Linked DNA regions of Homo sapiens: region 1 is linked to region 2. The links come from fine-mapping of genetic effects on gene expression. A gene starts in region 2. The other region holds a variant in brackets. All regions are shown on one strand. Distances are from middle to middle. Region 1 has its middle 18 kb from the start of PARP10. Region 2 holds the start of OPLAH (5-oxoprolinase, ATP-hydrolysing).

Region 1 (15,000 bases), 92 kb before region 2:
CTTCTCCCTGTCTCCCCCCACCCACACACACAGTGTGAAAATCACTGTTAGTGGCTTCCTGTTTGTTTCTCCAGAATTTCTTTACAGAAAATCAAGCAAATACCATGTGATTCTTGGTTTTCTTCCTTTTAACACAAACGGTGAAATCTTCCGGGCACCATTCTGCCCCTGCTTTCCCACCCACCCCACAGCTGGAGGCCTCCCGCTCTGCACGGGGACCGTGACCCACGTCTGGCCATGCAGAGCGGCACGTGTGGGCCCAGCCTCTGAGCGCACTCAGGCCAGTGACCATCGTCTGCTCGGACACACACTGCGCGTTTGTGGCTCTGACAGACGCTTTCTCTGGCCTGGTTCCCACAGCTTCAGCAACAGAACCTAGAAATCCAGATTTTTGATTTTTGCCAATACGATAGGTAAAAAACAGTATCTTGATGTAAATTAAAGCTTAAATTTTGAAAACCACTTGACCCAGAAATTCCTTTTTTTTTTTTTGAGACAGAGTCTTGCCCTGTCGCCCAGGCTGGAGTGCAATGGCGCGATCTCAGCTCACTGCAACCTCCGCCTCCCAGGTTCAAGTGATTCTCCTGCCTCAGCCTCCTGCGTAGCGGGGATTACAGGCGTGCACCACCACACCCTGCTAATTTTTGTATTTTTAGTAGAGACAGCGTTTCACCATGTTGGTTAGGCTGGTCTCGTACTCCTGACCTCGTGATCTGCCCAACTCGGCCCCCCAAAGTGTTGGGATTACAGGCGTGAGCCACCGCACCTGGCCAGAAATTCCCTTTTTAACAACAGTCATAGAGATGCACAATGACCCAGCTACAACACTGTTCACTGCAGTCATTTCTAATACAAAAATCCAAAATTAAACTCCGTGTCCTAGGAGAAAGGATTGATTGGTTAAATATGATATGGTTTCCATACAGGGGAATGCTGTATTGTAAATTAATGTCACAGAGAGATGCCCAAGCTGTATCACTAAGTAAAAGAAGTTACTTATGTCTAAAATACTTCATAACATTAAATCATGAAATTACAGATAAATTAACACACACTAAAGAACACTGTGCATGCTTTTTTATTTTTTTATTCTTTTTGAGACAGGGTCTTGCTCTTGTAGCCCAGGTTCACTGCAGTGTTGACATTCTGGGCTCAAGAGATCCTCCCACCTCAGGCTCCCAAAGTGCTGGGATTACAGGCATGTGCCACCTGTAATCACGTGCCCAGCCCACTGTGCACGCTTTTTAAAACAATGACTATGGAACAAAAATGTGTAAGTTCTACATTAACCAACTACTGCAGGATGGCTGGGTAGGTCCAATGGTGGCCACAAAAAAATCTATGTCCATGTCCCTGGAGCTCATAAATGTGGCCTTATTTGTAAACAGGGTCTCTGCAGATATAATTAAATAAAGGATCTTGAGATGAGATCATCTTGGATTACCTGGATGGGCCCTAGATCCAAAAGCAAGTGTCCTTAGACGAGGAGAGACACAGAGGCAGGGATTGGCATGATGCAGCCACAAGCCAAGGGGCAGTGGAGTTGGAAGAGGCAGGCGGCTATTCCTAGGCTCTTCCCGGGTGCCTTCGGAGAAAGCGTGGACCTGCCGACACCGGATTTTTAACTTCTGGCCTCCGGAACAATCAAAAGATAAATTTCTATTGTTTTAGGGCGCCCTGCCTGTGGCTCTTCCCTGTGGGAATCAAAGGAAATCAATACAGACAGCGAGCAGGAGCAGGGTGCCTCTGTGACGAATATCTGAAAATGTGGATGTGGCTTTGCAATTGGGTAATAAACAGAAGCTGGGACATCTTGAGGCACACAGTAGAAAAAGCCTAGCCTGTCTGACCAGACGGTTGGTAGAAATATGGGTATTAAAGGTGCTTGTGGTGAAGCCTTAGAAGGCAACGAGGAAAGTGGAGGAAAGGTGCTTCTCACATTGAAGCGAAACTTCGCCGAACTGTGTTCACTGTCGGGTGCTCAACAGAACTTGTAAGCAATGAACTTGGATATTTAGCTGAAAAGATTTCCAAGCAAAGTGTGGAAGGTGTGGCTTGGCTGCTTCTTGCTGCTTATGGTAAAGTACAGGAAGAAAGAGATAAATTGAGGAAGGAACTATTAAGCAAAAAGGAAACAGCATGGGTGATTTGGGATATCTGCAGCCTATTTAGATTGCAAAAGATGCTCATGTTGGGAGGTTCACTGTTAGGAAAGTGTGTTCTGCAGAGAAAGCCATCTCTGCAGAGATGAGGTATGTGACTCATGGGTCCATTCACTCATCTCAACAGAAGCCAGGAATAGAGACAAGATTATCCAGGGAGGATCCGAGTGAACCCTTCTCTCTAATGGCCTGGCTCCCTGTGACATACAGGGGAGACCCAGAAGGTTTATGAGAATGTTTTACCAGCAGAAACACTGCCTGCTTGGATTGATGGGAACAGAGACAGGATGAAATGAAGGAAGGTATTGGGCTTCTGAGAGTCTACAGGCAAGAAACAGGATGACAGACCCAGGCAGCTGCAAACATGTGCTACCCTTTGAGAAAAAGGAAGAATGACTCCAAGGTCAGGGCCTTAGGCCTAGAGGCAGAGGCTGGCAGAGGTGCAGGTGCAGAGGGTGGGGCACTGAGCCACAGAAGAGCATTCACGGGCCTTGAAACCCCACGGAATTTGCCCTGCTGGATTTCAGACTTGCTTGGGACTGGCAACCCCTTTATTCCTTTATATTTCTCCCTTTGGGAATGGTGATGTCTAGTCTATGCCTAGCCCAACATTGCAGTTTGGAGGCATAAAACTTGCTTTCTAGTTTTACAAGTAAAAAGATGGAGAAAAATTTTGCCCCCATCTGGATCCTACCCAGAGCCTCACCAACACCTGATTTAGACACAACTTCGATGATCAGATTTGGGACTTCTGAGCTGATTAAATGTTGTTCTTGTTTTTTTCAAGATGGGGTCTCATTCTGTCACCTGGGTTCAGCCTCCAGGGTTAAGCAATCCTCCTACCTCCACCTCCTGAGCAGCTGGGACTACAGCCATGTGCCACCACACCTGGCTAATTTTTTTTTTTTTTTTTTTTTGAGATGGAGTCTTGCTCTGTCACCCAGGCTGGAGTGCATTGGTGCAGTCTCGGCCCACTGAAACCTCTGCCTCTCGGGTTCAAGCAAGTCTCGTGCCTCATACACCTGAGTAGCTGGGATTATTGGTGTGTACTACCATGACTGGCTGATTTTTGTATTTTTAGTAGAGACAAGGCTTCACCATGTTGGCCAGGCTGGTCTCCTGATCTCAGGTGATCCACCCACAGGCCTCCCAAAGTGCTGGGATTACAGGCGTGAGCCACTGTGCCTGGCTAAGCGGATGGAATTTTAGACTTAGAGCTGATGCTACAATAGGTTGAGACTTTGGGGCATGTTGGCATAAGAAACATTTATTTTGGAAGTGGGGCAGATGTAAGTTTTGAGGGACCAGAGGACAGACTGTAGTGGGTTGAATGGAGGTCCCCAAAAGATATGTCTATGAACAATTCCCTGGAACCCATAATTGGTATCTTATTTGGAAAAAGGGTCTTTGCAGGTGTAATTAACACAAGGATCTTGAGATGAGATCATCCTAGATTACCCAGTAGGGGGCCTAGAACCAATGCCAAGTGTCTTACAAGAGATGGAAGAGAAGCCACAGGGGAGAGGGCCACGGGAGGATGGAGGCCGACACTGGAGTGATGCGGCCACGAGCCCAGGCACCGATGGCCACCAGGAGCTGGAGAGGCCAGGAACAGAGTCCGCCCTGGAGCCTCCGAAGGAGCGTGGCCCTGTCAACATCTTGATTTTGGACATGTGGCCTCCAGAACCGTAAGAGAATACATTTCTGTTGTTTAAGGCCACCCAGTTTGTGGGTACGTGTGACAGCAGCCACAGGAACCTAAAACAGGGCACATTCTCTGGGGGTATCTGTATTCTGTAAACAACCATGCATTCTTGTGGCAGTCATGACAGTGGCGTCCAGCTGTGTCTCTTAGGCCTATCCTGTGCCTGCTCTGTTAGCTTCCCAGGTAGCCACTCGTTTAGCAAGAAAGAAGAGAAAGAGATGCACTTTCAAAAGGTCAAAAGACACATTCATTTGAAAAACAGAGCAGAATAAAAATCATAAAAGCCACAACCAGAGACCTTTACTGCAGCTACCTCCTTCTGCTCCTGCAGACCCACACTTCCAGCCCTGACCAGCCCCACTCCCCCAACCAACCCCCACCCCCCCGCCCACCCTGGTGTGCCCCTGTGGATGGCCTTCCCCACCCTCACCGTCCCACTTGGCCCCAGCCCACCTGACACACCAGCCTGCCCAAGAGCACCCAGACTCACACCAGCCACCCTGATGCCGTCCTGGGGCCTTCCTTTCCTGCAGCACTGGCCCTGGGTCTGCCGCTACTCCTGGAGCCACACAGGGACACAAAGTGATCCCCATCCCATTCCTGGTCCTGGGTCTCCTCTGCCTCCAGGAAGAAGCAGCAACAGTCCTGCCAAGAGCTGACCACCAGCTGGGAGGACTCTTCTGCAGCTAACCAGGACCCAAATCCTGGAGAGCAGGCCCCACAGGCTGATGTCCCAAGTCCTACAGGATCCTGTCTTCCCAGCTGGCACCCTCCTTCCACCGTCTGAACGCGTGTTCCCAACTCCCCTTCCACTGGGCCTACAGATGACCCGGCCCATGCCCCATTTTGGGTCCCTGACCTCATGACCCACGGCCCCTGCTCTCCCAGCCCCGCATCTCCCTACCCACTGTGGGTCTGTGGGCATCACCCATGACCCCAGCGGTGGGAGATCTGGGCACCTGGTCCCACTAGCATCGCCCTTCCCAGCCTCCTCCAGTCCCTTCTTGAGGTACCTGGCCCCTGGCCCCTCTGCTGCCAGCTCCTCTTGGGCCTCACTGGGGAAACTGAGGCCACAGGGCACCACTGCCCACACCCTCCCAACAGCCCAACCCTGGGAAAATCTCCAGGGCCCTCAGTGGTGAGCAGCAGTCTGGACTGGCCACTGATGATGTGTGGCTGGGTAAATGTGAGCGACCACTCAGTACTCACCCTGGGCCAGGTGATGCCCATGCCCCCTGTGACCATGCAGGTCCCTCAGGCCAAGGCCCAGGGAACTCCTTCCCCAGGGAACTCGGGCCAGCATCCAGCTGAGGCTGTGACCTGCTGCGGCCTAGCCTCCATGTCACCGCTCTGTCCTGGAGAGGGTTCTCCCTCCCTGCCACCCTGCTGGACCCACCATAGCCTGGCACCAGCAGGGCCTCCTGAGCACTTCCCACATGCCCCCTGGCACCTCCAATCCGACGACACCCCAAGCAGTCCCGCTGAGGTCCCAACACCCCTCATCACCTGGTCCCAGCACCATCCAGGCCTCACCCTGCTCCCAACGTGGCCCTGCTTCCTCACGCCCCTTCCTCCTTCGCAGACCCAACAGGCCCCCATGGCTGCACAGCTGCCCACTGCTCTGCTTCCCGGCTGCCTCTTCTCATAGGCACCTAAGCTCTGGAGGACCCCAGGCTCAGAGCTCTGGCCCGAGGCCTGCCCTAGTGATGGCCTCCCAGCCTGGCCTCCCCACCTCAGCCCAGCATTTCCTGCACCTCAGTGTCTGCACACGCATACCTATCTCACAGGCATCTCTGATTTTATGCACCCAAGGCTAAGCGCTGGCTCTTCCGCCCTCTCTGCCGCAGGCACATCCTCTCCACCCCAGGCTGCTCTCTACCTCCACAGCCACCACGGGGGACTCCTCAGCCGCTCCTTGGGAGGCACCAGGCCAGGATCTTGCAGGGGTCCAGCCAGCTCCAAGTCCACCTATCCCTCCCACCCAACGCTTGTTTCAAGCCACACCTGCCACAGGACAGGGCGGGGCTCGGCTGGGGGGGTACAAAAGTGAAGCAACACATAGTCCCCGCGTCAGGAAGCTGGATTCTGCCACAGGACAGGGCAGGGCTCGGCTCGGGGGCACAGAAGTGAAGCAATACACAGCCCCTGCGTCAGGAAGCCGGATTGGTGGAAGGGGAGATGTTTACAATCATCCCTGTAACCCACAAGCCCACGGCCAGACCCTATGAGCGTGACACCAAGCATGACATCGAGCCTCCTTGAACATCTCGACCTCAGCCCCAAGCAAATTCCACAAAGATTAACGACAGAGATGTTTAAAAAAATGCAGCAGTGCTGGAAGCAACTCTCAGCAGATGTTTTTCTAAAAGAAGGCCATTTTAAGCATAGCATAAAATCCAGAAATCATAAAAGACTGGTGAGTGTTAAAAATTGATATGGCTAAAGAAACCACAGACAGAATTAGGCCAGGCGCGGTGGCTCACGCCTGTAATCCCAGCACTTTGGGAGGCCGAGGTGGGCAGATCACGAGGTCAGGAGATCGAGACTGTCCTGGCTAACACGGTGAAACCCCGTCTCTACTAAAAATACAAAAAATTAGCTGGGCATGGTGGCGGGCGCCTGTAGTCCCAGCTACTCGGGAGCCTGAGGCAGGAGAATGGCTTGAACCCGGGAGGCGGAGGTTGCAGTGAGCCGAGATCGCGCCACTGCATTCCAGCCTGGGCAACAGAGCGAGACTCCATCTCAAAAAAAAAAAAAAAAAAAAAAAAAAAGAAACAGACAGAATTAAACAAAAATAGATGCGTGGTGTGAGACCCATCCATGGTGTGCCCAGTGGGGACTCAGCAGGAACTTTCCAGGAGCTGAAAAGTTCTGTTCCGTGAGCTGGTGCTGCCCACAGGCAACTTCGAAGTTTACGCCGAATACAAGTGTCCCTCGGTATCAGCGGGAGATGGGTTCTGGACTCCCCATGGATACCAGAATCCACAGATGCTCAAGTCCCTGATGTAAAAAGGTGTAGTAGCCAGGCATGGCAGCAGCTCACACCTGTAATCCCAGTACTTTGGGAGGCCAAGGCAGGAGGATCCCTTGATTCCATTTCCATGTGAGCACAGGAGTTTAAGACCAGCCTGGCCAACAATGCTTGTGAATAGGCAGTTCACAAAAGAAAAGGTGCAAATAGTCAACAACTCTAGGAGATGTGCTCAGCTTAATTAATAATCAAAGAATTCAGGCCAGGCGCGGTGGCTCACACCTGTAACCCCAGCACTGAGGCTGAGGCAGGTGGCTTACTTGAGGTCAGGAGTTCAAGACCAGCCTGGCCAACATGGGGAAACCCTATCTCTACTAAAAATACAAAAATTAGCCAGGTGTGGTGGCGCACACATGTAATCCCAGCTACTCGGCGGACAGAGGCAGGAGAATTGCTTGAACCCAGGAGGCAGAGGTTGCAATGAGCTGAGATCATGCCACTGCACTCCAGCCTGGGTGACAGAGCGAGACAGAGCGAGACTTCGTCTCAAAAAAAAAAAAAGGAAGAAAAGAAAACATTGGTGTAAAGCTTCATGACTTGGATTAGACAATGGCTTCTTAAATATGGCACCAAAAGCACAAGCAACCAAGGAAAAAGATAGATAAACTGGAGTCATAATAATTAAAATTAAAATGTACGTGCTTCAAAGGACACCACCGGCCAGGTGAGGTGGCTCACGCTGTAATCCCAGCACTGTGGAGGCTGAGGCCAGGAGTTTGAGACCAGCCTGGCCAATATGGCGAAGCCCCATCTCTACTAAAAATACAAAAATTAGCCAGGTGTGGTGGCAGACGCCTGTAGTCCCAGCTACTCGGGAGCCTGAGGTACAAGAGTCACTTGAACCTGCTCCAGCCTGGGTGACAGAGCAAAACTCCATCTCAAAAAAAAAAAAAAAAAAGACACCAGCAAGCAAATAAAAAGGCAGACCACAGAAACAGAAAATGTTTGCAAATCATATTTCTGATAAAGGACTGGCATCTAGAATATATAAAGAACACTTACAACTCAAAAATACCAAAAGGTAAATTCTAAAATGGACAAAGGATTGAAATACACATTTCTCAAAAGATATAAAAAATGGCCAACAATCACACCAAAGTGTTCAACGTCATTAGCCATCAGGAAATGCAAATCAAACCACAATGAGATTCCACTCGACACCCACTAGGATTGGATGTCTGCAATCAAAGAGTCAGATAATAACAAGTGTTGGTGAGGATGTGAGGAAATTGGAAACCTCGCACCCGGCTGTTACTGGGCATGCAGAATGGCACGCCCGCTTTAGGAAGCAATCTGGCAGTTCTTCAAAATGGTTAAATATAGAATTACCACACAGCTGAGCAATTCCACTCCTAGGTATCTACCCAGCAGAAATAAAAAACATACGACCACACAAAAACGTGTATGCAAACGTCCATAGCAGCCTCACTCATAACAGCCAAAAGGTGGAAACAACCCACTATCCGTCAACTGATAAACGCATAAGCAAAAGTGGGCACTTCCACACCACGGAACCGACTCCAGCGGGGGGAGGGTGAGGTGCTGATGGCGCGGCGATGTGAGCAGCCCTGACAGCGTCCCGGCAAGTCGAAGAGGCCAGACCCAGGGCCAGTACAGGCCAATCCATAACCATTCCTGTCTGCCTGAGCCCCTCAGCCCCCCCATTCTCCCTGTCCCCCATCCAGGGCAGATTCCTCTGGGGCTGAGGCTACTGCAGCCTGTGGC[A/G]GGAGAGCTCTGGGCACCCTATGGGAGAGGCCTCCGTGCTGAGGGCTGTGGGCTGGTGACTTAGACAGTCGGCCCAGCTGCCAAGAGGTGTCCAGTCGCCCAGCCCCCCAAGCCTGGCCTGTGACAGCTCATAGAGGCTGGGCCGTCCTGCCACACCATGGGAGCCTGGAGAGAGACCTGGGGTGGGTGTGGCAGGGCGGGGACAGTTCTAGGAGAGAGTTGTGGCAATGCAGGTGAGTGGAGGTGAGGCGGTCAGTGAAGAAAGAAAGAGCGGCCCAGCAGCAGTCCAGCGTTGTGGGCAGGGGCCTGTCCTGGGGGTCAGGGCATGAGTGCAGGCCGGGGAGTGGGGAGTGGGGCCAGCCGGGGGCCTGGGCAGCTGGGGATAGAGACTTTAGGTTGTCATGTTAGGGATGGGAGTGGGGCTTAGGGGTGCTGTGAGGTGGTCCTGGAGAGGGCAGCAGGGGTGAGAATGAGGCCGGGGTGAGTACCGTTGGTGAGTGGGTGGCGTTGGTGTGGGGCAGGGGCCAGGGGTGGGAGGCCTGCATTGGTCTGGGGGAAAAGCGGGCCTGGAGAGGGGCTGGGTGTGTTGGGTCTCCACAGGGCGTGTGCCCAGCCTGTGGCCTGCACTCTCTTCAGGACCCCTTGCCAGCCCTGGGCCTGCCCAGTGCCACTGTGCCTGGCCCCCTCCTCATGTGTCCCCTACTCTCCCCTGTCCTGGACTCTGAGCTTGGTTATCTGTGTCCCTGGCACTGGCCCCAGGCCCTCAGCCAGCACTGCAGGGTGTTTGCACGGGTGAGTGGGTGATGGCGTAGGGCGTCATCTGCAGTGGTTGGTGCTCAGCTGGCAGAGGGCAGGCTGGAGGTTATTTGGGGCTCACTGGAGAGGAATTTTGGTCGGTGTTTACTGTCAAAAGTAAAACGCTCCAAAAAAAAAAAAAATCAAGCAGGGTGGAAGTATACAAAGAAAAACGGGGAGAGTCACACCTCTGGGTTCAGGCTCCCGGCTGGGGCGATCGCTGTGCATGAGAGAGGGCGGGAGAGAGCACACGGATTTGGCCGCCCCTTTACAGGGAGCTCAGACTGAGATTTCCTCTGGAGCCACTGGCTTTTCATGTCAGTACCAATTAGGTTGACCTCATGCTGATTATTAGTATTTTTTAATAGCTTTATTGAGAGGTAATTCACATGCCACACCATTCACCCATTCAAAGCGTCCAATTCAGTGGTTTCAGTAGATTCGGAGTTGTGTAGCTGTCAATTCCAGGATATTTTCTCACCCAGCCCCTGGCAACACCGCTCTCTTTTCAGTTATGGACTGGCCGCCTCACCTCCACTCACCTGCATTGCCACAACTCTCTCCTAGAACTGTCCCCGCCCTGCCACACCCACCCCAGGTCTCTCTCCAGGCTCCCATGGTGCGGCAGAACGGCCCAGCCTCTATGAGCTGTCACAGGCCAGGCTTGGGGCGCTGGGCGACTGGACACCTCTTGGCAGCTGGGCCGACTGTCTAAGTCACCAGCCCACAGCCCTCAGCACGGAGGCCTCTCCCACAGGGTGCCCAGAGCTCTCCCGCCACAGGCTGCAGTAGCCTCAGCCCCAGAGGAATCTGCCCTGGATGGGGGACAGGGAGAATGGGGGGGCTGAGGGGCTCAGGCAGACAGGAAGTTGGCGATGTTCCAAGCGGAGCAGTGGCCGCCTGACTGTACAGGGAAGACCGGGGATTTCCAGGGGAGAGCCAGGGAATGACGTGTCCAGGGGAGGGTCTGAGACGTTGTGGGGTGGGGGGTGAAGGTCACCGGAGTGAGGGTCAGACAGGGAGTTGTCTGTGAGAGGGCACAGTGAGGTGGAACCGAGGCAATGCCACAGAGGGGAGGAGGCCAGGAGGCCTAAGCCAGAGCACCTCCTCAGTGCAGGGATCAGCTGGGCAGGGGGCACAGGCCTGGCCTCCCTGCCCTCCTCAGAACCACCAAATGCTGAGCTGGGCCCAGGACAGGGGCCCGCAGCTGCTTACCATGGAGGGATTTGGGGCTGCCTTGCCGTCACTGGCTGGCTGGCAAGGGGTGCCATGCCCTCCCACAGTCCCTCCACCCCAGGGACAGGAAGGGCCGGGGCTCCAGCCCTCTAGCAGGTCCAAGGGGCTCACAGAGGTCAGGCCTGGAAAGGTGTAGGGCACAGGGGCCACCTCTGACCTCCTGCAGGCCCTCCTCAGCCTTGGTCCGTGGCTCCCAGACACAGGTACCAGCCCAGCCCCTCCCGTCCCCTTGTCTCAAGCCAGGAGCTAAGGAGACTTGGGGTACCTGGTGTGCTCACGGAGCCTCAGCACCTGCCTTGCTGTTTAGCCACTCTCAGGCCAGTGCCACACACATGCGGGCAGCTGCACCATCACGTGACAACTCCACTTCAGGCAAGCCCCCCGGCCCCCCTGCCCCCTCACCAGCCTCCACCACCAAGCCCAGAAGGCAGACAATGGGCCAAGACTGCGAGTGTGCCCAACACCAATCCTGGCCTCCAGAGGAGCTGCGCTTGGGAGGGAGGACCCTGACAGAGGGTCCCAGCAACCTCCAGGGATCTGTCTGGCTCACCCCTGGATGAATCAGAAGTAGTTCCCACCCCAGGAGGTAGAGGAAAGACAGCCCTGGGGCCAGGAAAGCCTCAGCACAATGCCCAGAACAGGCTGGGGCACCCCAGGCAGCCCAGCAACCTGACCAGATGAAGAACTCCAGGAGGAAACGATCCTGCACAGTTCCCGCACTTTGAACAGAGTGGTCAGCTCAGAAACAGCTCTGTCCTGGGGCTTGCCAGGAGGGCTGGAGCCCAGGTGGGCGGCTGCTTCCCTGCCCTATACCCCAGCACCCCTCCGGGTGCTCCCTCTAAGGCAGGGCCGGCCATGTAGAGCATGAGCAACAGGCTGCCCGCTCCAGGCCTCCCCAAGGGTGCAGGAGTGTCTCCCCTGGCCCGAATGAACTAGTCACACAGGCAAAGCGGCTGGGCACAGCACTGTCAAAGAGAGCCACAGCAGTACATCCACCCTGCCCCAGAGCCGTCGCTGGAGGACGCCTGAAGGAGATGAGTTCGGGGCACCATGAAACCTACCCAGCTGGGCAAGGTTGTGGTGGAGAGCGGCACCACGGGGCCCCAGCAGGACCTCTCTCCCTGAGCTGCCCTTGGGGGCAGAGCCAGCAAAACCAGCCACGTGGAGCTGGAGTCTGCTCTGATCGGCTCTGCCTGGGGGCCCCCACCGCGACCCTCCCCAGCAGCTCAGTCCCTTGCTCCTAAGCCTCTGCAGGCCGGCAGCCAATGCTGTGTCCACAACCGCCTGGAGCCGGGCGACCCAGGCTGAGCCAGGCAGCTGGGCTGCAAGAATGGCCGGTGGGACCAGGACCTGGGAGGGTCCAGGGGCTCCCCGTGGGCGTGGACTAGGGCAAGGGGGTCTGCCGAGGCATCAAGCAGGTGGGCAGGCCACTCTGATGCTCCCCTAGAGAGGAAGGAGGGGCCACCCTGACCCCTAGCCCACAGCTGTCCCCTAGTGAACAGAGAAGGGGTGTGGGGGGGGTGCCCTGCCAAGGAAGGGTGGCAGCCCAGGCCCTCGCCAGTTTAGGGAGGTGAGGAGAGGCGGCAACTATGTGACCCATTGCCAGGCGGCGGAGCTGCCCCTGTTCCATGCAGACGCGCCCCAGAGGTGGGGCAGGGGATGGCTCAGCCTTGACCCATGTGTCTGCTGGCCACAGACACCGGATCCTGGCTCAGACAGCCGACCCCGACAAGCCCTGAGCGCCCCCACCCGCCCGCGGCCCACCCCACCCACCCGAGCCGCGCGATGCCCTATTAAGGGCATGGCCTCGGGGGCTCAGCGGAGCGAGTCCTCCCCTTCCCTAGGCACTGGCAGCCGTTGGGGGCGATCCAGGCGGACGAGGCCGGCGGAGTGGCCGCGCTCGGGCCGGCGATCGGGACCGCCACCGTGGACGACAAGGTGCTCGGCGGCTGGGCTGTCAGGAGCGGCCCGACAGGCAGCGGGACGGGGGGCCGTACCTTTGTACTTCTCGCGCACCTCCTCGTAGGCCTGGATGAAGTCCTGCTCGTCGGGCAGCGGGCCGGCCATGCCGGCGGGCGCGGGGCGCGGGGTGCAGCGGAGCCTCCAGCACCCGGCGGCCACTCTGTCCCCGCGGCCGCGCGCGCCGCTTAAAGAGGCCGCCCCCGCCCCGCCCCCGCCCCGCCCCCGCACCCAGGATGCCCCACGGGCGGGGCGGGGCCGGGGCCGCCGCGGCCGGGCAGAGGGAGCCGCGTCTGGGCCCCTCCCGGCGGGCCGGTTCCGCGGGCTCCGAGTCCCGCACGCACGCCCTTTCCCGTTCTCGCCCGGGTCGCGGCCGCCGACACCGCGGTCGCCCGGGGGTCCTCGGGTGGCCCCCGCCCAGGGGCGGCCGCGACCTGTCTGTTCCCCGCCGGGCCGGCGACCTGCCTCCGAGACGCTCCCCTGCCCGCCCCCCACCTTGCTTCCTGCGTGCAGCTGAGAACTTTCCCATTGCAACATTGGAGACGACTGAGTCGGTATAAAGAACCCTTAAAACACTACACACAAGAAAAATTAAGTACACATACGAGGACTGGAATAGCCCATTCACAGAAGGAAAAAATGCTTGGTGATAATTAAAACAACTCTTTCCACCCATCAGATTGGCAAAGCCCCCGCTCTCCCCGCCTTCACCAATGTCGGCCACCCTGTCTGGGATGCCCCTGGCCGTGTTTTCTCCAAGCTTAATGCCATATGTCCTGTAACTGCAAGTCCCGCTTCCAGGAATCGGTCCTAAGGAAACCGTCAGAGGACGCAGAGCCCCGGCGCGGAAGGTGCTGGCTGGGGGCAAAGCCTTTGCAGTGAGTACCGAAGGCAACCACGGTCAGCCGGGGCCTCGGGACCCCCCACACTCCTCCACAACTGTAAAGGTGATGCTGAAGAAAGCCCAGGCGTGGGAACGACACAAGTGATTCCCTTTCAAGTGGGAAGAAAGTGACTTCTTTCTTTAAAGTCCGTGTGTGCTGTGAAAAGCCCTGAAGGTCATGCAGATGGAACCAGACCCTGGGGCTGGAGCTGGGTGCACAGCAGTGACCCTCTCCTTCCCTCTTTCCTGCTCCTACCAGCCCCGCTTCCCGTCGTCTGCAACATCCCCCCAGGGCTCAGCACCTGGCCTTGCAGCCCTCTCCTGGCCTCCCGCAGGGGCCTCCCTGCCCTCCGGCTGGAACAGGTCAGGACTCTCAAGCCAAAGCCTAGAGAGCTACTGCTCCTCCCTCTCCTAGCACAGCTCTAGGTCACCCACTTCCCTCCTGCCCTCCCCCTTCCCCAAGCATCTCGCTGGATGCTTCCCATCGTTCTCCCTGGATGGGGAGCTACTGGAAAGCAAGGCCAGATCCTGGCTCAGGAAGAGGCTGGGGCTCCAGACAACCAGGTACCCCCTCCCTATACACTGCTCCTGTACATTCCCACCTGGCCGCCATTGTGGCAGCCAAGACCGAGGGCCTGGTGGGGAACCCAAAAAATTATCCTTGTTGCATCTGGGCACTGGACCGTGTTAAAATCAAGGATGGACGCCGCGGCAAGAAGCCCAACCCCAGGCCTCATGAACCGCCTGGGCGCGGCCGGCAGGTGGCGCTGTGCCGCCTGCACTCACCTGGGACGCGCGAGGCCCTCCGTGACCCGCAGATCCCCCTAGGCCTCCCCCACCCAGTCCCCGCTCCAGCGCCTAGCACGCAGCGGGAACTCAGTCAACCTCGCGTGCCAAGGAGGTGCACAGGCAAGGCCCTGCGCAGTTACCTGCGATGCGAATGACCGCCCGCTCAGCTGGGTCCAGGACACTCCCGTTGCTCCCAGCGCCACCCCCGCTGCGCCGGCTCCGCTGCGTTTTCCCAAGGTTCCAGGGCAGTGTGTCCCCAGGGCTGGGCGAGCCACTGCTTCCATTGGAGACATCTTCAGAGACTGCCCGGACCTCAGCGTCCTCACCCGACATGGCCTCCTGGAAGGGGAGCAGGAGGGGTCACATCTCTGCCTGTTCAGGAGTGGACTCTGCACGCCGACCCACCCACCACCTTCTTAACCTAGACACTGAACTCTCCCCACCCAGCCTCTCGCCTGGACACTGGCACCCACACCCCTCCTGCACTCTGCTGTACCCACATATTGACCCCCATGCTCTGGCCCCAGGCACTGACTTACCCTCTCTCCATCCATGACTGCCTTGCCCCCTCCCGCGCACTCCTCAGATACCTACACAGTGACCCCCCAGCCACTGGCCTTACCCTCCAGTCCATCACCAGGACACTGACCACCCTGGCCACCCCCACTCCCACACACTGACTGCCACTCTCCTCTCTTAGTCACCCACACCCCAC
Region 2 (15,000 bases):
CGTCGTCCATGTGGTCTTCCGAGGACACCTCCAGGGGCAGGCCCCGGGCCTGCCGGGAGGTTCCAAAGGCACGCAACATGTCTCGCACGGCCAGCTCAGCGTTTGCCTGGCAGGGAGCAGGATCAGTGGTGGCCAGGTCACCTGCAGGATGGCCCTGCCGCCCACACTCCTGTGCCCAGGCCCACCTGAATATGGCCCATGTAGGCCTGCACCACGTCCAGGCCGTACTGCCCAATGAGCTCCCCCACCAGCTGGATGCCCTTCTGGTTGGCTGCCACCTGGGCACGGAGGTCCGACAGGTTGTCGTGCAGGTTTCTGGTTCCGCTGCAGTTGGGGACCTTGCCTGGCGCCCGCAGGGCCTCCGTCACCGCTGGATGGACAGTGTCATCACTGAGCCCCTGGCCAACCCTGTCTGCACCCCCAACCCAGGTTTCCCAGATCCAGACAAGGTCTCTGGCCCCTAGAAAGCACCGAGGCCTGGCCTGGGACTGCTCAGCACCTCAGGAAAGCCCCTCTCCTTGAGCCTGGCTCAGGGTCCCCTCTGAGGCAGCCACAAGGCCCTCTGCAGTGTGCCTGTGCATGTCCCTCTGTGGTCCACAACCCCTGCCCCAGCTCACATTGACCAAGGGAGCAGCCAGCAATGGGCCACCCTATCTGTGTCCTCAACACCCAGAACAGCCTGTGGTTCCATTACACCCACCCTCTGCCACCACCCTCCACCCTGGCCACGCCACTTCCCCTGGGCTCCCAGACCTGCAGCCTCAGACCAGGGCTGTTTTTCCCTGTCTCTCCTACCCCCACCCCCACCACAGGCACCCCTGCAGCCTCCATCCCCCCTTCCCTGCAGCTGCTCAGTGCCAGGCCCTCCACCTCCAGCTGCCCAAACTTGACCCCTGGCCCCCTCTCCCAAATCCCTCCAAATACCCACCTCCACCTCTAAAACTGTCCCCCACCCCCCGCCCTCGCTCTCCACTCAGCCCAAGACATCAGCATCATCCAGGGCAACTGCAGCTTCCCCCCACCTTGCCCCCCAGCCTCCAGGCCACTCTCAAGACCCCGAATCCTCTCTGCACGTGGGCACAGTGGGAGCTCAGCGCAGGCCCAGCTGAAAGCCCTTCACGGCCACCCACCACCCAGTGACTCAGACCTAGGCCCAGAAAACTCTACAGGGGCCTTTGGGCCCTGCCCCTGCCCTGCTGTTTCTCTGCGGACCCCACCCAGTATGACTGCACACACCACAAGCAGCCACCCACCTTGAAACAGGCTTCTCTCTCCAGCACCCTGACCCTCCACGTCTTGGCTAACTCTCCACCCGCAAAACCACCCCTCGGGAGGCCTTCCTGGGCCCAGGCTGAATTCATCTCAGCTCCCGGGATCCGATCTGCAGCTGCCCTTTGGGGTAACCACCTATCTCCTCCCAGCCTCAAGGCAGGCCTGGGCCTATGGGCTGCATCCCACGGTCCAGCCAGGCCTGCTTGCCAGCAGTGGCCATGTGTCCCAGCCTACAGAAGGCCTGCCCCACCCCACTCCCACTCACCCTCCTCCTGGAAGACGCCCCCCTGGACAAGTTTGAAGGACAGAAAGACGGCACCCTCCTGTTGCAGCATGGTGGAGTGGGGGGGCATGGAGCCTGGTGTGATGCCCCCGATGTCTGCGTGGTGCCCTCGGCTGGCCACATAGAACACAGGCCGCGTCTGACCCGGCCAAAACACCTAGCGGGTGGAGAGCCACGGTCAGCTGCATCGGCCACCACTGCCCCAGCAGAGGCAGGCGGGCAGCACCCCTCACCGGTGTGATAACAGTCAGGTCTGGCAGGTGGCTGCCCCCGGCACTGGGATGGTTGCTCAGTAGCACGTCGCCAGGGTGGAGATCGGCCCCCAGGTGCTGAATCTGAAACCAGGAGATGGGTGCAGAGTGGGCACAGGGGAGCAGGGGCCAGAGCGGGGTGGGGGGGGGGTGGAGGGTGAGGGAGGGGGATGGAAGGGTGAGGCGGGGGAAGGGCCACCTGGAACTGCACCGTCTCCTGCATGGCACCCAGGTGCACAGGGATGTGGGGGGCATTGGACACCAGCCCCCCATCGGGCCCAAAGAGGGCACAGGAGAAGTCCAGACGCTCCTTGATGTTGGTGGAGATGGCTGTGCGCTGCAGGATGCGGCCCATCTGCTCTAGGAGCACAAAGTGACCAGGCCCGCTGGCCCCACCCACCCACAGCCTGGCCCCAGGAAAGGGAGGAACAGGACCCACCAGGACTCAAACCCAGGACCCAGGAAAAACCCAGCAGCTTTTTCCTGGGGAAGACCAAGTTGACGGTGTGCCCACTTGGCCACGTCTTAGCCTATGTAAAGGACACCACCTTCCCCAGCCCTGCCTGGAGCCCCCAGCAAGAACCCAGTGCCACCCCTCGACCCTCCCACCCTGCCTGGCACAGCAAGAACCTGGTTCCTAGGCTCTTGACCTCTGGGCTCCCAGCAAGCCGCTGGCCTGACCCTGCACAGATGGGTTCCCTGTGCTGTCCTCAGTATCCCTTCCTTAGCTAGGAGGGCACTCTCTGGATCACATGGCTGCAGGTAAGGGGGGAAGGTGTCCTCCCTGCCCAAGGTTTGTTCTCATGGCCAACTGCACCACACCAGTGCTGCGGCCACACTGCCCGCCCCGTCGCCAGGGGGTCCTGCTTCTGCCTCTCCCTTTGGGCACAGCCCTGCCAGCTACCCCATGACACAGCCGGCGCCTCATCCCACAGGGAGCCTGGCAGCGGCCACTCACCAGCAATGCTCATGAAGCGGTGTGAGAAGATGGACAGCTGGATAGGGTCCAGCTGGGGGCCCACTGTGCCGGGGACTTCGGCCCCCACGGAGATGCAGATGTCCCCTGTCTTGGTCACCTCTGCCTGGCAACCTGGCTCCACCAGGATGGTGCTGGGGAGCAGAGGGCACAGAGGGCTGCATGGGGCCAGGCGACACCCCTCCAACCAGAGATGCCACGGCCCCAGGCCAGGGGCCACCCCAACGATGGTGGGATACAGAGTCCTGCAGGCCCCTGCAGCCTTGGGCCAGAGAACCCTGCACCAGGGGCCCCGCAGTGGACCCGTCCACATCCTCCACCCTGGCCGGACTTCAGCCCACCTGTTACTGTCGATGATGAGGCAGGGCCCATGGAGCTTGTGCCCATAGCCCAGCTCTGCCAGCAGGTACACAGGGGTCTCCTGGTAGCCCCCCTCAAAGTAGCACTGGGTCATCTGCAGAGGGTGCGGGTGAGTACAGCGCCCGGGCCCAGCACCCTCCCCGATGCCTCTCACAGGGCTTGGTCCCCATCCCGGTGCCCCATGGGTGCTGTCAGGCTGGCACAGGCAGGACCACCAACCTTGTCCACCCGGGGAGGCCCGGTCTGGGCTTTGGGGGCATCCTCGAGGCGAAGACCACTGCGGCCGGTGCCCCGCACTCGCACATCGTCCACGACCACCGGCCGCTCAGGTATGACAAAGCCAAACTCCCTCATGTACCTGCACTCCCCGCGGGGACCCAAGGAGTGGTCAGAGTGAGGCGGCCAGACAGGAGGGCCCCTTGCCAGGGATCCGGAGTCAGGAAGCCACGTACCGCTCCACAAAGGCTGCCCCGAAGTCCCCCGCACGGGGCGAGCGGGCTGTGGCTGGGTGCTGGTGGGCAGACACCATCAGAGCACAGTCCGTGCCCTGGTAGCGCAGGTGCAGGAAGCTCTCAGTGCTGATCTGGGACCTGCAGCAGGTGGTTGGGGGCACTCACACCAAACCCCCTGCCCTGACCCCACCCCACCCAGCGCCCGGCAAGGACACCTGTTCTGCTTCTCGCACACCCCGGGACCACCTGGGAAGTCATCAGGAGGAACACCCACCAAGGGCGTGGTGAGGACAACGTAAGCCCTCTGTCCAGGGCACCCTGGGAGCCCACCTGGGGAAGCCCTGGGCCTGCAGAGCATCCACACACTGCTCCTCCAGGCGGCTCAGCCTCTGGTCCAGCTGCACGAAGGTCTCAGGCGCGTAGAGCAGGGAGCAGGGTTCCTGTGCCTCATGCACCACGTCAGCCAGGGCCAGCCCCAGGGCCGACAGCAGCCCACTGTGCCTGCAGGGATGGGCAGCATGGCAATGGGAGGTCACCTCCCAAGCCCGGCGCAGATCACACCACCTCCGTGCACCCACACCCAGGCCCACCTGTGGATGTGCACCGTGTCCATGCCCAGGGCCCGGGCGATGGCACATGCATGCTGCCCACCAGCTCCCCCAAAGCAGGCCAGCACATGGGCTGAGGGGTCATGGCCTCTTGCCTAGGGAGACAGAAGGGGTCAGTGGGCTCTCCTACTCTACCCCATCCAGCCCCCAGCCTGAGCAGGAGGCCTGGGGCAGGGAGCAGGGCTGGGGGCAGGACAGGCGGGAGAGCAGAGGTGGACGTACCTGCGTGAGTGCACGGATGGGCCGGCACATGGCCTCGTTGGCCACGCGCACGAACCCCATGGCCACCTCCTCCAGGCTCAGCGGGGAGGCCGGGCAGGGCCCGTTGGTCAGGAAGCTGTTGACCTCAGTGGCCACAGCCTCCAGGGCTTTGCGGGAGGCCTCAGGGGAAAGTGGTTGGTTCTCTCCCGGCCCAAAAATGCAGGGGAAGGAGGCAGGCAGCAGGCGACCCAGGACCAGATTAGCATCCGTCACTGTCACAGGGCCCCCTGGGAGGTGGACAGGGTGTGGGGCTTGGGGGCTGGAGGCAGGGGAGCAGGAGTAGGCAGCAGGGATAGGGCTGACAGGAGGGGCTGGGCCTGCGGCGGCAAGCGGAGGGCAAGGCCAGGCCGGCCAGATCCTGACTCTTACCTTTGCGGTAGCAGGCGGGTCCTGGGTGGGCTCCTGCTGACTCGGGCCCAACCACAAAGAGGCCAGACCTAGGGGAAGGAAGGGCTGGGGTTGGAGTTGGACACGAGGAGGGAGACAGGGCTGGGGTCCCAGCCTGGGAAGCAGGAGAGCTGACCTGAAGAAGAGGCGGGAACCCCCTCCCGCTGCCACGGTGTTGATGTCCAGCTGCGGGGCCTGGAGGGTGACGCCAGCTGTGCTGGCCTCGAAGACGTGCTCGAATTCCCCAGCATAGCGGCTCACATCCGTGGACGTGCCTGGCAGGGGTGGGGTGCTGGTGGGTCACTTGAAGACCCAGGGGCCCAGCAGCTGAGCCTCCCCGAGACCCCAGCCCTCGGCCCTCATACCTCCCATGTCAAAGCCGATGACAGGCTGGCCACCCTCCTGCTGGTAGGTGGTGGCTGAGTAGCCCACCACGCCGCCGGCCGGGCCCGAGAGCACAGCACTGGAGCCGCTGAAGGTGTCCATGGGCGCCAGGCCGCCATCGGAGCGCATGAACAACACCTGCACATCCTGCGAGCGGGCAGCAGGCGGGCCATGAGGGGCAGGCCAAGGCCCAGGCCCAGGCCCAGGAGTGGGCAGTGGGGGTGCCTCACAGCCTCACCTTGAGTTGGCCCTGGAAGCCACGGCAGAAGCCCTGCACGTAGCGCTGGATGGCGGGCGTGAGGTAGGCGTCGGCACAGGCCGTGTGCCCCCGAGGGACGATGCGCACCATGGGCATGGCCTCCGAGGACAGTGACACGTGCGTGAAGCCCAGCTCCCGGGCCAGCACACCCACCTGCTGCTCATGCTGGGCCCACCTATGACAAAAACCCAGTGGCACCTCGTCTCCCACCAGGCCCGGCACCTGCTCCCGCAGCCCACAGCCCCACCTCACTCACGTGTACGAGTGCATGAGCACCACAGCCAGGCTGCGGATGCCTCGAGATAGCAGCCCCTCCAGCTTCCCACGCAGGGCCCCCAGGTCCACAGGCTGCTGCACTTCCAGCAGGTCCCCCGTGCGGCCTTCCAGAAAAGCCCAGGAGGCCCCGTTAAAGGCCAGCAGGACCCTCCGGCCCCAAATCCCACAGCAGCGGCGGCACACACACCTTTCACAGGCGTCCCGGTGCCCGCCTCTCCACGGTGCAGCACCACGCGTTCGTCCACCTCCAGCACCTCTTCATACAGCACCTCAGGCATGGGCACGGCCTGGGGGCGGGCAGAGACTCAGAAGAGGCCCAGGCCTGAGGGTCCAGGCCGGGGTCCTGTGTGAGTGGGTGGTACAGGTGAGTGGCTGTGTCCCAACAGGCCGGTCGGCAGGCCCAGGAGAGTCATACCTGGCAGCCCCAGCAAGGCTCACCAAGGGGGCAGCTCTCCACCCCCTAGGCAGCTGAGTGCAGCCAACTGCTCCACCCCCACGAAGGCAGCTTCTTCCGGAAACGCAGCAGTAGGTGCGGGGTTCCACCCCTCCTCTGCCTGAACAGGGTAGCTTGGGTGGCCCCACACCAGCATCCAGGGTGGGCATGGCGGCAGGCAGGAACAGGGCATCCTGTGCCCACTCCGAGGGCTAGGAGAACTTGGGGTCCCACTGGGAATTCGGGAGCTTCCTCTTTGTCGGCTGGTGCCCATGAGCCATCACTAATCCAACAACTGCTCTCCCCACAGGGTCAAGGCATCCCTGGGGGGTGTACACCACACAGCCTGGTCCCCAGCCAACATGGAGCTCACCAGGTCAAAGAGGTCCCCACGGGCTTGGGTGCCAATGTGCAGCAGGTCTCGGAAGCCACGTGTCACCAGCAGCGCCACCCGCTCCCCCTTCCGCTCCAGCAGTGCGTTGGTGGCCACTGTGGTGCCCATGCGGATGCTGGCGATATGACTGGAGTCCAGCGGCTGGTCCCGGGGCAGGAGCATGCCGGCCTCCTGGGGACCACGTGGTCAGTGTGGGGCTTCTGGCCGTGGGGTCCCTGTCCACCCGCTCCGCCCTGGCCCACCTGCTCCAGGATGCGGCGGATGCCTTCGGTTGGCGCGTCCGCATAGTTGGCAGGGTCCTCTGAGAGCAGTTTTAAGACCCGCACGTGCCCCCCTGGGCACTGGGCAAAGACGTCTGTGAAGGTACCCCCACGGTCGATGGCAAAGTGGAAGCGGCCCTCGGGGCTGCCCATGGTGGTGGGGCTGGAGTCCCACAGGAGCTCTTCAGCTGGTAGCCCTGGAAAAACTGGACGGAGGCGGGGTCAGCCCGGGCTCACCTGCGAGTGGGACTAGAGGCTCCCCAGCCCTGCGCATGCGGGGGGTTCCTGAGGGAGAGACCCACGGGCACGACTCTGGGAAGAGCCAGAGCCGCAGGCCCAGCTCCGAGGGCAGCCTGGGCCCGAGCGAGAGCCTGGCCGGCGGTCAGCGGCCTGATGCCCCCATGCCCAGCATCGCGCTTCTCCGGGCCCTGGACTGGGCCGAAACCCAGGCAGCGGAGCAGGCACGGGAGGTGGGGACGCCGCTGGACCCTGGAGCCCTCGGGCGGGGTCCCTCAGCACGAAAGAGGCACGGGAGTGCGGGGAGGGGGTTTGGGGCGAGCTGGCCGGGGGACCCCACTTCCCGCTTTGCTCGACCTTCGACCCAAGCCTGGCGGGCCCCGGGACAGGACGGAGCCTGAGCACCGACGGGGCGACCCGAGGCGGGGACGCGTGAGGAGCGGCCCGGGAGGCAGCGGGGAAGGGGCCGCGGAGGGGAAGCCCGGGAGGCAGCGGGGAAGGGCCGCGGAGGGGAGGCCGCCCGGCGCAGGCCCCACCTGGCGCTCGGCTCCGGCTCGGTCGCTCGCGGTCGGCTCTGCCTGCGCTCCCGGCGGCCCTGCCCGCACCAGCCTCGCCTCGGGGAGGAGCCTACAGGGCCCGCCCCCCGCGCCACTGGTCCCGGCACTCGCGGTTACATCAGGCCGGGCCCGCCCCCCGCGCCTCCGTCCTCGCCCTGCGCTTCCCCGGGCCACGGGCGCAGGATCAAGGGCACCTTGGCTCTGCGGCCCTCGGGTCTCCGGCGCCGGGCCTGGGCTCGCCTAGCGTGGGCGCCCCAGGATCCCACCTCCAGGTGTCCTGGGCAAGGGGAGCTGGCAGCCCAGGCCACAACAGGGCTTCCCACTGGCGGACGTCCTTCCCCGTGGAGGGGGCGTTGAAGGACAGAGAGGAGAGGGGAGGCCCTGCGGCCTTCTCTACCAGCCCCAGCTCCCGGCCCCGTGGGCCTCTCCTGTGCGGTATCTCTGGCCTTCTTCACCGGGTCTCCCTCATCTCCAGCCCTCCTTGTGCCAGAGGCGTGTGAACCAGAGCAACTCCATCTTGAATAGGAGCTGGCTAAAAAGAGGCCGAAACCTACTGGGCTGCACTCCCGGACGATTAATGCATTCTAAGTCACAGGATGAGATAGGAGGTCAGCACAACACACAGGTCATAAAAACCTGTATCTCCCAGCCCGGCCAACACGGTTGAAACCCCCTCGCTACTAAAAATACAAAAATTAGTCAGGCATGTGGCACGCGCCTGTAATCTCAGCTACCGGGAGGCTGAGGCAGGAGAATCGCTGGAACCCGGGAGGCGGAGGCTGCAGTGAGCAGAGATCGTGTCACTGCACTCCAGCCCAGGCGACAGAGCGAGACTCCGTCTCAAAAAAAAGAAAAAAAAAAACCCTGTATCTGATAAAACAGGTTGCAGTAAAGAAGTTGGCCAAACCTACCAAAACCATCGTCCTACACTCCCCGCAGCGCCATGGCGGTTTACCAGGGCCACAGCAACGGCACGAAGTTACCCTATATGGTCTAGAAAGGGGAGGCATTAATAATCCACCCCTCGTTTAGCATATCATCAGAAATAACCATAAAAATGGGCAACCGGCCTGGCACGGTGGCTCACGCCTGTAATCCCAGCACTTTGGGAGACCGAGGCGTGTGGATCATGAGGTCAAGAGATCAAGACCATCCTGGCCAACATGGTAAAATCTGTCTCTACTAAAAATACAAAAATTAGCTGGGCGTGGTGGCACGCACTTGTAGTCCCAGCTACTTGGGAGGCTGAGGCAGGAGAATCGCTTGAACCCAGGAGGCGGAGCTTGCAGTGAGATGAGATCGCACCACTGCACTCCAGCCTGGCGACAGAGTGAGACTCCGTCTCAAAAAAAAAAAAAAAAAAATGGGCAACCAGCAGCCCTCGGGGTGCTCTGTCTATGGGGTAACCATTCTTTATTCCTCTACTTTCTTAATAAACGTGCTTTCACTTTAGGCACTCGCCCTGAATTCTTTCTTTCAAGAAATCCAAGAACCCTCTCTTGGGGTCTGGATTGGGACCCCTTTCCTGTAACATTTGTGCCAAGGGCAGTGGACTCCAGCTCCCCATAGACAGGGATGGGGCCCAGGATCAGGCACTTAGGAACCCCTCCCCATGGATGGGCTGCTGCTCATGTCCAGATGACTGCCCTGTAAGTGGCACGTGCCTGCTGTGATGCCACCCCCAGACCCCATGCCCATGGACCTCCTAGTGCCTTCCCATCCTGAGGCCCAGCTGAGGCCCCAGATGATCATGCCACGCCCACATGCAGGAGCCCCACCTGCCTGCTCTGAGCAGTCCGTGGGAAGCAGCTCTGGTCAGCAACCCCACTTCAGCCGAGGACCTTCCCCACCAGCCATACAGCCTCTGCCTGGCCAGCCCACACTCCTGCGGGACTGCCCTGCCTTCTGGTTTCCACCCATCCCCAGCACAGCCTCTTGGTCCTGCCTGTCAGCCCAGGATCTATCAGGAGAGATTCCCACACCCCACCCACCCACACCCCCACCATCTGCTGCCCTGTACGCACTCAGGCTGCCCGCCAGGCCTGTGCTGTAGACCCCAAACTCTCTCACTGCCCTCCACCATCCCCAGCCACCCCCTCGCCTCTCTGTTCACTCCAGGGGCCTGTGCTATCCACTCACAGACGAAACCTCTAAGGGCCTGTCCCCACGCTCCCTAGCGGCATCCCACTGCCGTGCACCTCCAGGTGTCCACCTCCCCCACCTCCGCCTGCCTCCTGGGCTCTCCTGACCCCACTCCACTGCGCGTCTCGGGGGCAGACCAACAAAAGCCAACCCCCACCCACCCAGGCTCAGGCCTCCCTTGGCTGCCCCACCTGCCTCCTACCCCACTGGGCCTTTATCTCTGTCCCTCCATGTTGCTGGGTCCCAGCTTCCCCTTGGCAATGCCACGCAGCCCCTCCACAGCAACCAGAGGCAGCTCCAGGCCTGCGGGATGGCCCGGCCCCTACTCTCTAGTGGCGCCTCTGACTGCATGGCCAGACACGTCCCAAAACCAAGCCCCAGGCCACCTACCAGTGGCCCACTCCAGCAGCGGCTCCCCCACCCAGCGAGCTGCCCCAGCCCCATTCTCATCCCCACACGCAATCTGCCAGAAGTCCTGTTACTTTCACCTTCAGAACACAGAGCTGCTACTTCTCACACCTCCACCCCGGCCAGGCTTCCATCACGTTCCCCCAGGGATATGGCTGTCCCCACCACCAGAGAGCGCAGGGCTGGGAGGACAGAGTCTGCCGTTGCAGTGACTCTGACAGCTTCAGGCACAGACAACTTGCACCCACCTCAGGGCCTGGCACAGGCTGTTCCCTGGGCCTGGAAAGCCGCGCCCCAGCCTGGCAGCTCCCTCGCCCGCTCAGGCTCTGCTCAGAGGTCACTTTCCCAGACCTGGCACCTTCTCCCCGCCGCACATCCTGGAAGAGCCCCAGGGCCCTGGCTTTGCTCCAGAGGCACCGCAGCACCCAGCGGGTTTGCCCAACTCCACAGAGTCTTGGGGCCCCGGTACGGCTCACCTCTCTCAGCATTCTTGAATTTGATCGTTCTCCGCCTGGGTAGCCAGGGACTGGCAGCCACCTCAGCCAGGAACCCGGAGCTGCAGAAGCCCAGGCTGCTGCCGCGGTTCCTGAGCACCAGCTTCAGCTCCTGGTTCTCCTGGATGAGCTGCACCAGCCGCCGCAGCTCTTCGTTCTCCTGTGCCAGCCGCTGGATCTCCTGCCGCAGGCCCTCATAGCTGCTGAGGAGGGACATGCCTGGCAGCCAGCGGCGGCAGCTGGCGGGGGCCAGCAGGCCGGCCAGGGACAGCAGACCCTGCTATTGTGAGGTCAGCAGCTGCCCCTGCCCCCTCGCCTCAGCCGCATTCCGGGCCTTCAGGGTCAGGACCCAGCTGTTCCAACCACCCCGTGGCAGAGGTGGCCTGACCTCTGACCTCCAGCCCCCTGAGGGCCAAATGGCCAGTGGGTGCCCAGAACTGTCCCAGGTCTCTGGCTCACTCCAGGAATCCTCCTCCTAGAAGATGGAAGCTTCTTTGACCCGGCCAAGCCCAGGTGTGTCGTGGGGGAAGGGATATGGGATGCAGGCTTCCGCACCCACCCGTCTGACAGCCCACTGGCCACCAGCCACAGCCTCCAGGCCTGGCCATGCCAGGACATAGTTTTAGGCAACCAGGTGTGGTATGTCGGCAGTCACGGTTGGCACAGCTTCTGAAGGGATCAGGAAGGGTGGGTGCGTGGCTGCCCTGCAGGATGGGGCCCAGCAACAGCAGGAGCTGGACAGCAGCAACCAGGGCAGGCCAGGGCTACAGGGGCAGAGCCAGCCGAGAGCACGCTAGGACAGCATGGGAGGGGGCTGCAGGCCAAGGGATGCACCAGGCAGTGCTAGAGCCACCACAAGGGAGGCTGGGCCTGTTTCTGGGGGCACAGGGCCTTGGCATTGTCACATGGAGGTTGCAGCGAGCAGGCAGGTGCCCTGGAAGAGGCACCACATCTGGGCCATAACCTCAAGGAAGGGGATGGGCCAGGCGGCCCACCAGAGGCTGAGGACCAGGACCTAAAGACACACCTCCCCAGGGACAGGAGAGCCACCCTCACCCTCAGTGGTGACAGTGGTTTGCATTTTAGATCACATAAAGGACTTTCTTCTTCTATCCAATCTGTCTTTTTTTTTTTTTTTTTTTGAGATGGAGTCTTGCTCTGTCGCCCAGGCTGGAGTGCAGTGGCGCCATCTGGGCTCACTGCAAGCTCCGCCTCCCAGGTTCACGCCATTCTCCTGCGTCAGCCTGCCAAGTAGCTGGGACTACAAGTGCCCGCAACCACGCCTGGCTAATTTTTTTGTATTTTTTTTAGTAGAGTCGGGGTTTCACTGTGTTAGCCAGGATGGTCTCAATTTCCTGACCTCGTGATCTGCCCACCTCAGCCTCCCAAAGTGCTGGGATTACAGGCGTGAGCCACCGCGCCCAGCCTCCAATCTGTCTTTAAAGGGACACTTCTGCACAGTTACTTTGGTTTTCTGGCTTTTTCTTACATTATGATTATTATGTATTTTACATCATTTTTCTCTTTTGCTTGTTTGATGGTCTAGTTTCCACTTGCTGATTTGTAGACTGTCCTGGGATTCTCAAACTCCTTTCCCTGGCTACTCGAGTGGAGCCATCGCAGGGCCCCTCACCTGTGCGAGTGGGGGCAGTGCCCCTGAGACTAGTGCTCCAGGAGACTGGGGGCAACTGTACTGAATCCCAACAGAAATTGTGACAATTTAATTCTCGGCCGGGTGCAGGGGCTCACACCTGTAATCCCAGCACTTTGGGAGGTTGAGGCGGGCAGATCACCTGAGGTCAGGAGTTCGAGACCAACCTGGCCAACATGGTGAAACCCCATCTCTACTAAAAAAAAAAATACAAAAATTAGCTGGCCGCGATGGCAGGCACCTGTAATCTCAGCTACTCAGGAGGCTGAGGCTGGAGAATCACTTGAACCTGGGAGGCAGAGGTTGCAGTGAGCTGAGATCGTGCCACTGCACTCCAGCCTGGGCAACAGAATAAGACTCTGTCTCAACTACAATAAAATAATTCCTATAATTAGGAAGAAAATGGAGTAGAGTATTTTTATTTTTTTATTTTATTTTATTTACTTTTTTTTTTTTTTGAGATGGGGTCTCACTCTGTCACCCAGGCTGGAGTGCAGTGGTGCAATCATAGCTCATCGAAGCCTTGACCTCCCAGGCTCAAGGGATCCTCCTACCTCAGCCTCCCAAGTAGCTGGGACCACAGATGCATGCACCACCATGCCTGGCTAGTTTTTTTGTTTTTTTTTTTTGGTAGAAACAGGGTCTCGCTATGTTTTGTTTTGTTTTTTGAGATGGAATCTTGCTGTCACCCAGGCTGGAGTGCAGTGGCGTGATCTCAGCTCACTGCAAGCTCTGCCTCCCGGATTCAGGCCATTCTCCTGCCTCAGCCTCCCGAGTAGCTGGGACTACAGGTGCCCGCCACCACACCTGGCTGATTTTTTTTTGTATTTTTAGTAGAGACAGGGTTTCACCGTGTTAGCCAGGATGGTCTCTATCTCCTGACCTCGTGATCCCTCCGCCTTGGCCTCCCAAAATGCTGGGATTACAGGCGTGAGCCACTGCACCTGGCCCGGGGTCTCACTATGTTGCCCAGGCTGGCCTTAAACTCCTGGCCTCCTGCCTTGTTCTCCCAAAGTGCTGGGATTACAGGTGTGAGCCACCACACCTGGCCAAAGTAGAGTTTTTCTCTTTTTTTTTTTTTTTTTTTTTTTGAGACAGAGTCTCACTCTGTCACCCAGGCTGGAGTGCAATGGCACCATCTCGGCTCACTGCAACCTCCGACTCCTGGGTTCAAGCAATTCTCCTGCCTCAGCCTCCCAAGTAGCTGGGACTACAGGTGTGTGCCACCATGCCTGGCTAATTTTTTTGTATTTTTAGTAGAGACAGGGTTTCACCCTGTTGGCCAGGCTGTTTTCAAACTCCTGACCTCAGGTGATCCACCCACCTTGGCCTCCCAAAGTGCTGGGATTAGGGATTACAAGTATGAGCCACCAAGCCTGGCCTGGAGTAGAGTATTTCTGATAGTTGGAGAGATTTTACCCCAAAAGAATGAGGCTCGGCCAGGCGAGGTGGCTCATGCCTGTAATCCCAGCACTTTGGGAAGCCGAGGCGGGCGGATCACCTGAGGTCGGGAGTTTGAGGCCAGCCGGACCAACGTGAAGAAACCCCGTCTCTATTAAAAATACAAAATTAGCCAGGCGTGGTGGTGCATGCCTGTAATCCCAGCTACTCGGGAGGCTGAGGCAGAAGAATCGCTTGAACCTGGGAGGCAGAGGTTGTGGAGAGCCGAGATCACACCATTGCACACCAGCCTGGGCAACAAGAGTGAGACTCTGTCTCAAAAACAAAAAAACAAAAAAAAGAATGAGAGGCTCAGTCAGTCAACTTTCAACTCACACACTCCGAAAGCCAGAGGGTAAAGCGTGATAGGCAGAATTCTCAGAAGGCTTCCAGGATTTCCTGCTGTACATGCCGTGCATAATCCCCAGGACTGTGAATAAGATGGACTTTACTCCCATGATTAGGTTATGTTTTTTGACACTGCTGGGGGATAAAGGAGATGGTTTTGGGTGAGCCTAACCTAATCACGTGATCCTTCCAAAGGATGGGTCTCTTTCCAGTGGAAAGAACTCAAAGCATGAAAGAGATTCCACACAGGGGAGAGTCTCCACTGCTGGGGGAGTCTCAGAGCAAGGAATGTGGGCAGCTTCCAGGAGTTGACATATCATGGTAAAAATACTGGAAAGCAAAGACAAAGAGAAAGCTTTGAAAGTTAACAAGATAAAAAAATGATTCATCACATATAAGAGAACCCCAAATAAGATGAACACCTGACTCCTCAGAAGAAGCAGTGGAGACCAGAAGACTCAAAGTCAGAAAAACACTGTCAAGCAAGAATCCGATATTTAGGAAAACCACTTTTGAAAATGAAGGTGAAATAAAGACAGTTCAAGATGAACAAAGATAGAAAATGTGTTGGCCGGGCACAGTGGCACACGCCTGTCATCCTGGCACTTTGGGAGGCTGAGGCGGATGGATCACCTGAGGTCAGGAGTTCGAGACCAGCCTGACTAACATGGTGAAACCCCATCTCTACTAAATACATAAATTAGCCGGGCATGGTGGCAGATGCCTGTAATCCCAGCTACTTGGGAGGCTGAGGCCGGAGAATCGCTTGAACCCAAGAGGCGGAGGTTCAACCTGCCGAAACAACCTGCCAGCCTGCATTCCTTCCTGATAGAGACCACTGGCCACGGAGTGGCTCTACGGCTATGG

Evidence for each region. PIP is the estimated chance that this variant, and not a neighbour inherited with it, causes the effect.
Region 1: its variant is fine-mapped to the expression of OPLAH in monocytes (TOPMed, PIP 0.98).

What each region holds. Positions count from the first base shown.
Region 1 is chr8:143,960,752-143,975,751 of GRCh38, forward strand. It overlaps a transcript of PLEC not described here. Among named protein-coding and RNA genes, the nearest start is that of PARP10, 18 kb to the right of the region's middle. RefSeq lists enhancers at 4,044-4,821, 4,822-5,599, 5,600-6,376, 11,102-11,951, 11,952-12,799 and silencers at 12,533-12,992, 13,003-13,132, 14,169-14,218, 14,239-14,308. The variant A/G (reference allele first, on the strand shown) is at 8,624.
Region 2 is chr8:144,053,024-144,068,023 of GRCh38, forward strand. OPLAH (5-oxoprolinase, ATP-hydrolysing) reads right to left here and starts at 7,669. Exons shown (of 27, transcript NM_017570.5): 1 at 7,630-7,669; 2 at 6,839-7,062; 3 at 6,576-6,767; 4 at 5,957-6,056; 5 at 5,750-5,873; 6 at 5,473-5,668; 7 at 5,216-5,381; 8 at 4,987-5,125; 9 at 4,833-4,900; 10 at 4,425-4,690; 11 at 4,185-4,297; 12 at 3,925-4,095; 13 at 3,595-3,732; 14 at 3,362-3,500; 7 more. The coding sequence starts at 7,009. It overlaps MIR6846 (microRNA 6846), which reads right to left and starts at 4,357; the gene lies at 4,298-4,357. It also overlaps a transcript of EXOSC4 not described here. RefSeq lists a silencer at 7,476-8,085 and an enhancer at 7,877-8,397.